Linked DNA regions of Homo sapiens. The protein of the gene in region 2 interacts with the protein of the main gene of each other region in a biochemical or structural test. Each region holds a gene or a part of one and is shown on either strand. Other genes may lie near its edges. The genes, in order: PHLPP1 and TRIM11.

Evidence for each region.
Region 1: the proteins of TRIM11 (region 2) and PHLPP1 form a complex in vitro, tested with the Homo sapiens proteins (one study listed by BioGRID).

Annotation. Positions count from the first base shown.
Region 1 is NC_000018.10:62,710,435-62,718,763, reverse strand, and holds the start of PHLPP1 (PH domain leucine-rich repeat-containing protein phosphatase 1), read right to left. Parts: upstream 3,224-8,329; 5' UTR 3,081-3,223; coding exon 1,505-3,080; intron 1-1,504. UniProt on the Homo sapiens protein: Protein phosphatase involved in regulation of Akt and PKC signaling.
Region 2 is NC_000001.11:228,393,176-228,396,835, reverse strand, and holds the end of TRIM11 (E3 ubiquitin-protein ligase TRIM11), read left to right. Parts: exon of another isoform or gene 1-93; intron 94-1,029; exon of another isoform or gene 1,030-1,125; intron 1,126-1,583; coding exon 1,584-2,131; 3' UTR 2,132-3,160; downstream 3,161-3,660.

The DNA.
Region 1 (8,329 bases), on a different chromosome or scaffold from region 2:
TTAAAGGGCACCTATTTTTAATGCTTTTGTAAAATAACAATATTTTACAAATTACATGAATTAAAGGAGAAAAGAATACAGTTGTTGATCTTACATAAAAAATCATCTATTTCCTGGACCATAAACTTTAAAAGCCATGTCATCGAGTTGACAAATTGTCTTCAGATACTGCAAATGCTACTGTATTACGATTTGGTTTTCTTTACAAGTAAAAGATTCATCAGAAATCCACTTAAATTTCAGAAAAACTTCCAAGAAATTTAAAGGGCATCTCTCTCACCAGGAATCCTGTCAGTCTTGCATATTTCAATGTGGGAGTAAAGATGTAAAGATTTCTTCATGCAAACTAATTAAATTGCCACTGGGACACACAAGCTGGACCAAAAGACATTAAATTGTAAAGAATGGCTACAAATTAATGGAGTTACAAGTATGATTATTTTCCACCATCACCTACAACCTAAAAACGTAAAGTTAGCGAAGAGTTAACACTCTTGATTTAATTTTGCTATGAGAACTTTATTTTAAATAAAATTCCTTATCACTGAGAACATAATTATTCAAACCAGAGGAGGAAAGGGATGTAAAACTACTTAGAAAACTCAAGTACAATATCCAGCATCTATAGCTCCTGAATTTAGTACTAGCCAAATCTTCAGCCAAAAGAGAAACATTACATGGGTCACCCCTAGTCAAGAATTTGCTAATGTACTGAAACAAGACGGGGGAAGATTTCAGGACACATCTGAAGAAATAGCAACCACTTAAATCCTTCTTGTGAACCTTCCTGCAAGGCGTATTGCGGTGGTCAGTTCTGACCATAAAGGCTGGAAGAAAATGAGAGAAACAGGCAAAATCTTTTTTTTTATGCAAGACAAACTTGCAGACGAAACAGAAATCGAGCAAAAAAAGCGCTGGGGAAAAGTATCAGTTAAAAAGGCACCCTTTTGTCAGATTTCTAATGAGGGCTCCGTGGGTAATTTATGAGTGTGGCAGAGCTGAATAAACAAAGGCACCAGTTGACAAGTCAGGAGCTCCCGGTGGCACATACAGCTAGAACGCTCAACTGGACAGTCAAATGCAGGCAAAAGTGTGATAGAGCATTTTTATTGTCATTTCTTCTGTCCGTCTTATGCTCACGTGACAGTTTACCTGAAATCCCAAACTGCCTGAAACCCAACATGCCCCTGAGGAAGCACCTTTATGGTTAAAGGTGCTCTTGCCGCTTTCAGAGGGATCTGCTTCCTGTACTTCCTGGTGATTCAGCCACCTCTTTCACATTGCTTTCCAACCTCTGAGCCCTCAAGATTGATAAAACGTGCAGATTTAAAGATTGCTCAATCTAGTACTACACAGACTGTATGAAAAAGCTGTAAAGTTTAAGACAAAGACTCATCAGGACCCGCACTTACTCTTGGGTTGGGCAAACTGACAAGCAATTTGAATCACTCCTCGGTCCTCGGCAGCTTTTGCAACCACCCGTCAAGGCAGGTGACTTCCTTACCTGCATAGAAGCGGATGAGGCAGCCAATCTCCGAGTCCATGCCTTCCTCCTGCACCCTCCACAGCTCCCCAAATCCCAGTTGGAAGAGGTAGTCATTTTGGATCTGCAATGGCTTCTCCTCCGCCTCCAAGCGCCGGGTGGTCTCTCCGTGGAGCTGCACGTACAGGGTGGGCGGCGGGGGCGGCGGAGGCGCCTTCTCCGCGGTCACCCCGCTCCTCCCGGGGGTAGACTGGAGGCCTCCCGGGGCCACGGCTGCCGCTGCCTTCTCCTCGCACGACCCCTCGCGGACGGCCCCGCCCGGGCTGTCAATGGCCCTCGGGGCTTTCTGCTGCGGCTGAGGCGAGGAAGCCGTCTGGGGAAGCGGGAGGGGCTGCGCGGGGTGGCCGGGACGGCGGGGCTGGCCCGGGACCCCCGTCGGGGCCGAGGCTGCGTCGGCCTCGAGCTCTTCCGACGACGACGAGGAGCCGCCGCCGCTGCTGTAGGGGTCCAACCGGTCAGACACGCTCTCGGCGCTGGGACTCAGACTGAAGCTCTCGGTGTCGGAGACCACAGGCCGTGGGGCGCGGGGCGAAGAGACAGGGCCCCCAACGAACGGCTCGCCGGGGCTGGAGTCCGAGGGCGCTGGGCTGGCGCGGCGCGACCACCCGCCCGGGCCGCCGACGGGCAGGGGTAGGTCGGCGGGGGGCGCGCGCGGAGGCCCCCCGAAGGCACCCGGCGCGCTCCTCGCGGGCGGTACCTCCGAGTCCCGCGGCTCCGGGGGCGCCAGCCGGGGGCCGGCCTCGGGGGGCGGTTCAGCGGGCTCCCGGGCGGCGGCGGCTCCGGGCCCCTGGCCCAGCACCTTCACCACGCCGCCGCCTTTGTGGCCCAGCTGCAGCAGGCGGGCGGCCACCTCGCCGGCCGTGGTGTCCAGTGTGCAGAGCACCGGGCGCAGGTAGGTCGAGGCCATGTGGCGGTCGAAGACGTGCACGCAGCCGCGCTGGAGCTGGTGCCTCACCCAGTCCCGGTCCGACGGCTGCAGCTGCAGCGTCTGCCGGTGCTTCAGAAGCAGCGTCTTCCTGTCCAGGCTCCGGGTGCACAGCGACGCCGAGGCCGAGCAGGAGGCGGGGAGGCCGGCAGCGCCGGGGGAGTGCGAGGCAGCAGCGGCCGAGGACGACGACGACGAGGAGGCGGCCGCGGCGGCCGCGGACAGATTCCTCTTCAGCCGCCCTCTCCTCAGCAGGAGGGAGTTGGCGCCGCCGCCGGCCCCGGGTACGGGGGCAGCCCCGCCGGCAATGGGCTGGGGCGCCCCGCGCCGCCTCCTGCGCCCGGCACCCCCCGCTCTGCCCGGCAGCGGCCCCGGCGGCGCCTCGCCTGGGGCCTCTTCCCGCGCCCCGCTGCCGCTGCCGTTCCCGCCGCTCGGGGCCGCCGGGGTCAGCGCGGGCTCCGGACTCCGGCCGCCCCCGGCCGCCGCCGCCAGAGCCGCCGCGGCCGCCGCTGCTGCTGCTGCTGCCGCAGCGGCGGCCGCCGGAGCCGAAGCTCGGTCCTCCCTGCCGAGCTCGGGGAGTCGCTGTACCGTGGCCGCGGCGGCGGGCTCCATTGCAGTGGGGCTTCGCGTTTCCCCCCCAGCTCCGGAGGCAGCGGGCGGAGAGGGAGGCGATGAGGCGGAGGTGGGAGACGGCGGCGGCGCGCGGAGAAGGGAGAAGCCAATGGCGTTGTGCGCGGCCGTTCCAGGGGATTATGTGGCGATTCGGAGCATTCCGTCGGTGTCTCAGTGTTCCATCCCGCGCGCCCGCCTCGCCGCCACCGCCCCCCCGACACACGCCCTCCCCGCCCGGGTCGCGGGCTCCCCAGCGCCGGCCCCGCCCGCTACCCCCGCCTCAACCCGGCGAACCAGCCGCGGATCTGGGCTCATTGAATATTAATCATGCGCCGGGAGCGGGAAGGCGGGAGGCTGGCAGGGCGGGAGGGCCGCGTGTGCCTCATAAATATTCATCGCCGGCATGACGGCATTCCAGGGAGGAGTGGGGAGAGCCAGGGGATGGCCGGAGGCGGAGCTTCAGGGTAAACAAACGTGACGCGTGCGTACGAGGGCGGGGTGGGGGGCAGTTTCCCGGGAGGTTCCTGAGCCGGCCTCGGAGAGGGCAGTGAAGACCGACGCGCGCGGTAAACCTTGGGAGTTGTGGTTCTCGTAAGGGGATCGGCAATCCCGAGGGAAACATGGTGGACTACAAGTCCCAGCGGTCCTTTGGTTCTGCTTCTCCTGGCCGCCAGCAGCTGGCCGTGGCCAGTGAGTATTGTGCCCTCTGCCGTTGAACTCTGTGCCAGAGTTCTTAATGAACACGAATGCTCATGTTCATTAACTTGTATTTTACCCGCACTCCAGCTTGCCAGATGACTTTTATTTTCCCTACTAATTAAAGGTGAGGGCTTTCAGGGACTGTAAACGTACGAAGGTCGCAGGTCCTGGTCCTCACCTGCGCCCATTGTATGAGATAGAGATACACACCCGTCACACCACAGCATCACTGGCAGTCTGAGTGGGCCAACCTCACTTTTTCCCCACTTTTTCAAGACCCAGGAAGACAGGCAGCGTCTGGGAATTCTAACTGAGGCTGTCGTTGAATGTGCTTGTTCGAAGGCACAACCCTAAGTCTGTCCTCTCCCTCTCCTGTACCTGAAAAGGAAAATAGCAAAGGACTGAGGTTTCATTGTTTCCCATTGCTCTTGAAGTCTGAAGTAGTTTAATGACACAGAAAGCACTGGTAAGTAGAAGAAACATTAGAATGGAGTATGAGATGGGCTTTTTCCACGTGTTCTGTCTTAACGTCTTCTCTGGTTTTTTTCTTTCATCATTCAGGGAAAAAAAAAATAGTTTCTACTGCCACAATGTTTAGTCGTGGTCTGAAAAGTTGTATTTTTCGTCAGTTGAATCAATGTTGTAATCATTGGGCAGTTTACTATTTAAAAGAATGTTGTACACCTTTTTAATTGAATTACCATTCCCCCAATTGCTTTGTAATTCGGGATTTTTCTTTTCTTTTTTTCTTTCTTTTTTCTTTTTTTCTTTTTTTTTTTTTTTTTTTTGGCCACAGAGTGGGTCTGTCGTCCAGGCTGGAGTGCGGTAGCGCGATCTGGGCTCACTGCAACCTCCGCCTCTCGGGCCCAGGTGATTTTCCCACCTCATCCTCCGAGTAGCTGGGACTACAGGGCTTGCCACCAAGCCCGGCTCATTTTTTGTATTGTTTTAGTGGGGGTGGGAAGTCCCTTCATGCTGCCCCGGCAGGTCTCAAGCGATCTGCCCGCCTCAGCCTCCCAAAGTGCCGAGATTACAGTCGTGAGCCACCGCGCCAGGCCCTAAATCCGGATTTTCACATGTGAAACTTTTAAACAGTTTTAAACCACATACTATCTATGACCTGTTTTAACCTCAATAAAGTGACTAAACTTGCAGATGAAGAGTGAAGGGGGTTGGAGAGAGAGACCAACTGGAACTTACCGCTTAGGTTATCACAGTTTCATTGAACAAGAATGAAGAAGCTGTGGAGATAAAAATAAATATTTCTCAATGATTTTTTACATTCCTGATGATTTTCTGTATTTTCATTTAAAGTTTCACCCCTTAGCCTCATGAATCTATTAATAATATGTATTTTATTTAAATTCAATCAACAGCAACATATGAAAAATTAGGGAGATTGCAAGTTCTCCCAAGAGTGATAACATTTTCAAGTCAATTAATTTAACAGATAATTACAAACATTTATTATGTACCAGTCACCGTGTTATAGCAGTTGAATAAATCACACACTGTCCCTGCCTTCATAGAGTTTACAGGTTAGAAAGAATAACATTCAAAAAATGCAGCAGAAGTACAGAAGGGGAAAATACAAGGTGCCACAGAAATAGACATAAAACAAGAGGAACTAACCTAGTCTAAGAAGTCAGGCAATACAGACCAAAGTTTGAATGAAATTTTTTGGAGTCAGTGAAAATGTGCATTTGTTGAAGGATCAGTCTCTGAAAGAAAGGGAAGAACCAAAGAGGTAATTATATTGAGATAAATTTCAACTACACTGATCTGTGTTGTGCCTTCAGTAGCCCCGACACAAACTATTTGTTCTAGAAATTGAAAGAATAGTCCTTTAATTTAGGCATCCTTTAATAAAATTTAAAAAACAAGGCACATGTTAAATTTCAGTACTAAAACATGGAATTTGTATACCTCTTTATATTCCTTAGTTGATTTCCTACAAACCCCTTTATATTTATTTATTTATTTTATTTTTATTTTTTCTTTTTTTTTTTAGACGGAGTTTCCCTCTGTCACCCAGGCTGGAGTGCAGTGGCGCCATCTCGGCTCAATGCAACCTCCACCTCCCAGGTTCAAGCGATTCTCCTGCCTCAACCGCCCAAGTAGCTGGGATTACAGGCACACACCACCACGTCCGGCTAATTTTTGTATTTTTAGTAGAGACAGGGTTTTGCCATGTTGGCCAGGCTGGTCTCAAACTCCTGACTTCAGGTGATCCATATGCCTCGGCCTCCCAAAGTGCTGGGATTACAAACGAGAGCCACCACGGCCGGCATGTTTGTTTATTTATTTATTTATTTATTTTTTGAGATGGAGTTTCACTCTTGTTGCCCAGGCTGGAGTGCAATGGTGCCATCTCAGCTCAATGCAACCTCTGCCTCCGGGGTTCAAGCGATTCTCCTGCCTCAGCCTCCTGAGTAGCTGGGACTACTGGCGCATACCACCACGCCCAGCTACTTTTTAAATTTTTTTGTAAAGATGGGGTTTCACCATATTGCCCCGGCTGGTCTCAAACTTCTGACCTGAAGTGATCCACCTGCCTCGGCCTCCCAAAGGGCTGGGATTACAGGCGTGAGCCACCACACCTAACCCAGAATGTTTCTTCTAATCATAAATTCTATCGCCATTGCTCCTTCTCTAAGAAATTACAATACCGCATTGAATCCACCCATGGTTCCTATTATTTAACATTACACAATCACCGCAACTCTGCCTTTTTTATTCTCTAGCAATTTTGTTTACTCTTTGAAGGTATTTATAACTAAAACACCTTTTTCAAGGGGAAAAAAATTTGTACCAAAAACATTGCTCAGGTTGGGCGCAGTGGCTTACGCCTGTAATCCCAGCATTTTGGGAGGCCAAGGCGGGCGGATCACCTCAGGCCAGGAGTTGGAGACCAGCCTGGCCAACATGGCGAAACCCCGCCTCCACTGAAAATACAAAAAATTAGCCGGGCGTGGTGGCGGGTGCCTGTAATTTCAGCCACTCAGGAGGCGGAGGACTCAGTGAGCCGCGATTGCGCCATTGCACTCCTCCAGCCTGAGCAACAAGAGAGAAATTCTGTCTCAAAAAAAAAATAAAGACATTGCTCAGAGGATTTAGTATCCAAATAATGGGGAAATGGGGACTGGAGAGCCATCATACACTCCTGGCAGATAGGGGCTTGGTACTGGGATACCTAATACTAAGTGGTGTCGGGAGGAGGCAGGAAATGAACAGGATGAATATTGTTACAGTACCTCAGCATAACGAAGAAGGAAATACATTCCTACCTCATAAAAACAGTGTTTGGAGGGGTGGGGACCTAAAATACAATTTTCCTGGATTTCATGCATAGAGTCCATCATCTGAAGATGACATATTCCATTGTATGCAGAATAATGTAAATCAGAGCTAAGGGGAGAGCAAAAGGGCCGGGGTCCACTGTGTAATCCTTCCCTTGTTCTGACCCAAGCCCCCAGTGATGTTACTAAGCTTGGGGTAAGAGAAGAAACAGAAAGAAAATGAGAGCTCCTGAAGAATAAACAATCCCTTACCGCCAGATCAACTGGATCCTTGTAGTTGAAAGAACAAATTGATAAAGGGCAATGAAACTTGTACTTAGAGCTTGCTAGTATCGGGAAACATCACCCAGACCATCTGTGCCAATGCACTCTATACAATTTCTCCAAATAAGAAAAAGATTTCAATAAAAGACAAATGTGTTCCAGACACCCATGAAATGGCAGCTTCTCCTACTTGAAAGTGGAGTGGGGAATACACCAGTATCCTAAAACCACATACATCATGAATGCCCCCCTTTAAAGTGTTCCAAATGTACGTTCTAATACCACATTTCTGACTAACCACACTTTCCAAAGAATCCCATTTTGAAATGCTAAAAGATAATCCTGAAAAGAAACATCAGATGCAAAAGTTGTGAATCCTGATGCCAACTTGTTAAAATATTTTCACATCTAAGTTTAGAAAAGGAGAACACAATTTTCAATTTATTGCCACAGTTTACTTTATGCTGTGTGATTTATAACTGACTTGCTATGATCTGCATCTAGGTTAATTCTGTTTGAATCCTTAGAACTAAGATAAAAGAAGTCATCTTTGGAGGTTTATTTTCTAATATAAGCAGTTGGAATTTTAATAGAGGCATAAATTGATAGCTGGGATGATTTCAGTCTGAGTTGTTAAGGGCTCAGCTGTGTCCAGAAATAAACTCAGAAAGATGCAATATACAATGTAATACATTTAGTTCCTACATTATGAACAAGGGATCTAATTATAGTTTCACATTTTTATATCCCTTGAGCTACTAGTGGTTTACCATGCCTAAATTGTTCACTGTTTACTCATTCTTTTTTACTATGAGGGACCCATTTAGCAAATTACTGCTCTAGTGCACTAAATGGGCCCCAGGTGGCCAAACTGAATTAATATGTTCCCTGTTCACTGGCAGGATGAGACCTTATGGTCTCTCTGAAGTCTTACCCCTCCCTCATAAAATTTACAATCTGAATTCAATCAAGAGCTTGGATTGCTAC
Region 2 (3,660 bases):
TGTCATGGTGGTGGGTTGTTGGGAAAACGTCCTCTGCTCATACTTCTGACATCAGTTGTGTGGGTATTTTCACACCAAACAATTCTTCAACTTCTGGAAACGAATTGGGTATCCAAGGATTCCATTCAGCATTGAACAGAATTGCCAGTGCTGACACTACAGGAGTTAGTACAGACCCCACAGATTAAGGGCTCAGTCCCATAAGACTGCCCCCACTTCAGATGCCAGTCACAACTTCCAGGGGCTGCCCATACTTCTGTTCCCTCAGCGCCTCTGCAGATGTGAGCATTCGCTAGCACAGCCCATGGAACTCAGAAGAGCACTTTACTTACTGTCATTGGTTTATTGTGAAGGATACCACTCAGGAAGAGCCAAATGGAAGAGACACATGGGCAAAGCCTGGGGAAGGGCTCAGAGCTTTCCCACCCTCCCTGGGTGCACCTTCCCAGCACCTCAGTGTGCTCACCAACCTGGAAACTCCCTGAGCCCCAAGAGCTGTTTAGGTGTCTTTGTGGAGGTTCCATTACATGGTTATGATTGATTAAATCATTGGTCATTGGTGATGGGGCTCAACCTCAGACCCCTTTCCCCTTCCTGAGGTCAGAGGCTGGGGCTGAGTGTTCCCGCCCTCTACTGACAGGATTGGTCTTTCTGGTGGCTGGCCTTATGCTGGGCTCTCAGGTCCCCACCTCAGCCACTGCAGTGGCATCAACTCAGGTGTGATGGAAAGGGGCATCTTATGATAGCACAAGATGCTTCTATCAGTCAGGAAATTCCCAGGGTTCTGTGAGCTCTGCGCCAGGAACTGGGCACAAAACCCAAATCTGAGTCTTGTATCACAGTCACCCAAAGGAAGTACTATCCTCAGCTCTTGCTAGCAGGTCAGGAGCCTGTTGTGTAGGAACTGTGTGCAGGCCTCCAGAGGTGGATAGATCTGAAATCGGAGTGGTCAGGGTTGGGACAGCTGCCCTAATTCACATCCTTCATTTGGAGATTGAAAGGAAAAACAGACTGGATGCATTGGCTCACCTCTGTAATCCCAGCACTTTGAGAGGCTCAGGCGGGAGGATTGCTTGAGGCCATCAGTTCAAGACCAACCCGGGAAACATAGCAAGACTCCCATCTCTACAAATAAAAAACAAAAAAATGAGCCAGCCATGGTGGCACACGCCTGTAATCCCAGCAGCTTGGGAGGATCTGAGGCGGGAGGATCATTTGAGCCCAGGAGATCAAGGCTGCAGTGAGCCATGATCGCACCACTGCACTGCAGCCTGGGGCCACAGAGCAAGACCCTGCCTCTTTAAAAAAAAAAAAAAAAGCAACCAAGATTCCCTCTTGATATCTGAAGGCAAAACATGGACCAATTTGTAGGACATTGTAAGTTGCAACTGGACGTAGCTAAGTGGGGAGAGGATGTCCACTTGGAGACAGTTAGTTACTCCAGGAGGTTGTGAGGCTACAGGCCCAGGGCAGAGAGCCAGGCCGTCCGACTGGGAGGATTGTACCTACATGCCCAGGACATGGGCAGATGGCCCCAGCTTGCCTGTGGCTGTGCCTGGGTGACCTTGGGCCTCTCTCTGCAGGGGACGTGACCTTGGACCCGGACACCGCCAACCCTGAGCTGATCCTGTCTGAAGACAGGCGGAGCGTGCAGCGGGGGGACCTACGGCAGGCCCTGCCGGACAGCCCAGAGCGCTTTGACCCCGGCCCCTGCGTGCTGGGCCAGGAGCGCTTCACCTCAGGCCGCCACTACTGGGAGGTGGAGGTTGGGGACCGCACCAGCTGGGCCCTGGGGGTGTGCAGGGAGAACGTGAACAGGAAGGAGAAGGGCGAGCTGTCCGCGGGCAACGGCTTCTGGATCCTGGTCTTCCTGGGGAGCTATTACAATTCCTCGGAACGGGCCTTGGCTCCACTCCGGGACCCACCCAGGCGCGTGGGGATCTTTCTGGACTACGAGGCTGGACATCTCTCTTTCTACAGTGCCACCGATGGGTCACTGCTATTCATCTTTCCCGAGATCCCCTTCTCGGGGACGCTGCGGCCCCTCTTCTCACCCCTGTCCAGCAGCCCGACCCCGATGACTATCTGCCGGCCGAAAGGTGGGTCCGGGGACACCCTGGCTCCCCAGTGACTCGGGCCCTCCTGGAGGAGTCCTGTTGCCTCTCCTGCCCCTCCAGGCCACTGAGTGTTTTGGCCACTTGGAGGACCTGGGAGGAGGGAGTGTGTCCTTTGAGCAAGAGGAGGAACTCCTGGTGCCTTTCTGAGCCTGCGTGGGAGAACCCCAATTCTAGCACTCCAGGAAACTGTGGGAGAGTGTGGGGCAGGCTCCGTCCTCCCTGGGAGACCCCTCCAGCCACCGGGTGCCACTTAATGCCAACAGCCCTTACCAAAGCTGGGAGCCCCATTGCCCCGGCAGCTCTGGCCTGTGGTTCCAGAAGCTGAGAAAACTCCACTGGGGCTTGCAGAATCCAGGGTTCACCTAAGCTGCACAGTTCCTGCAGCTTTGCCAGCCCCCTGAAAGTCTTGTGTACCCCACCTCTGAAGATGCTGGGGGAGGCAGCTGGGATGGGAGCCAGCCCCATGCCTGTCTGTGACCCCACAGTGGGTGAGAGCCCGTCACAGTCCTGGGTGTGGCTGCTCTGGAAGAATTAGGAGGCAGCCATAATAAGAGTCTTCAGAGAGATGATGGGAGGGGCCAGTGAGGACAGGAACAGAGAGTAGATGTCCTATAATAAAGGGGCTTCTGGGAGGTGCCTGGGCACAGATGTCTGTTCAGCAGGTGTGTGGGCCTAGAGGAGAGAGCAGAGCCCAGAAATGTCTTTTGCAGGCCCACGTTCTGACTTGAAGCTTTCGTGGGCATGTTGCCATTGGGTTTTGCCCTTGCAAAGGCTTCCTAGGTCTCCAGTGGCCCCTCAGGACCCAGGGTCCCAGCTGCTGCTTGGGGATGTGCACTGCTGGCCGCCGGCCTTGCAGTCTCTCTACCCTGGGGAGGAACAGTGGCTTCTCAGAGCCTGGGGCATACAGAAGAAGGCAGGAGTTGATTTTTGTGTTGGGTTTGGGGTTTCTTTGTCCTCAAGGTACTGTTCTGTTTCTCTTTACCCCTCTGCTTTATTTATTGTAAGCATTCCCACGTTAAATAAACTTTGGCTGTTGTCTACAAGTCATCCTGCTGGTGCCTGCTTAGTCCAGGAACAATAGCGGGTGCCCCACTGCCCAGCAGAGGGCAGAGCCCCAGGGAGGCTGTTGACGGGGCAGGCGGGAAGCTCAGGCAAAGTAAGGGCCGGGACGGGCAGCCACTTCCCACACCCAGGCACAGATGGGCTCTCCACTTTCTGTGCTCAATATATATGTTCCTTATGTGGAGCTATTGCCGGAATGTTTTTTTCGAGATATCCTGGTAAATGTTTCCTGCATTCCATTGTGCTTAACGAGTAGTCTCCTGATTATCATTTATTCAGTCACTCTCCCATTCTTGTCTTTTTTTTGGCAGGGGCCTGGGGGGGCATTATGTAATACCATGTTGAACAAGATCAGCAGTTTCATTCAGCTGCAACAAAGAGAAGTCTGAGTGGAAACCAGGGGACTGGGCATTTCTCTGTGTTGGGGTGGGGTTTTTGTTTGTTTGTTTGTTGTTTTTTGAGACAGGGTCACCCATGCTGG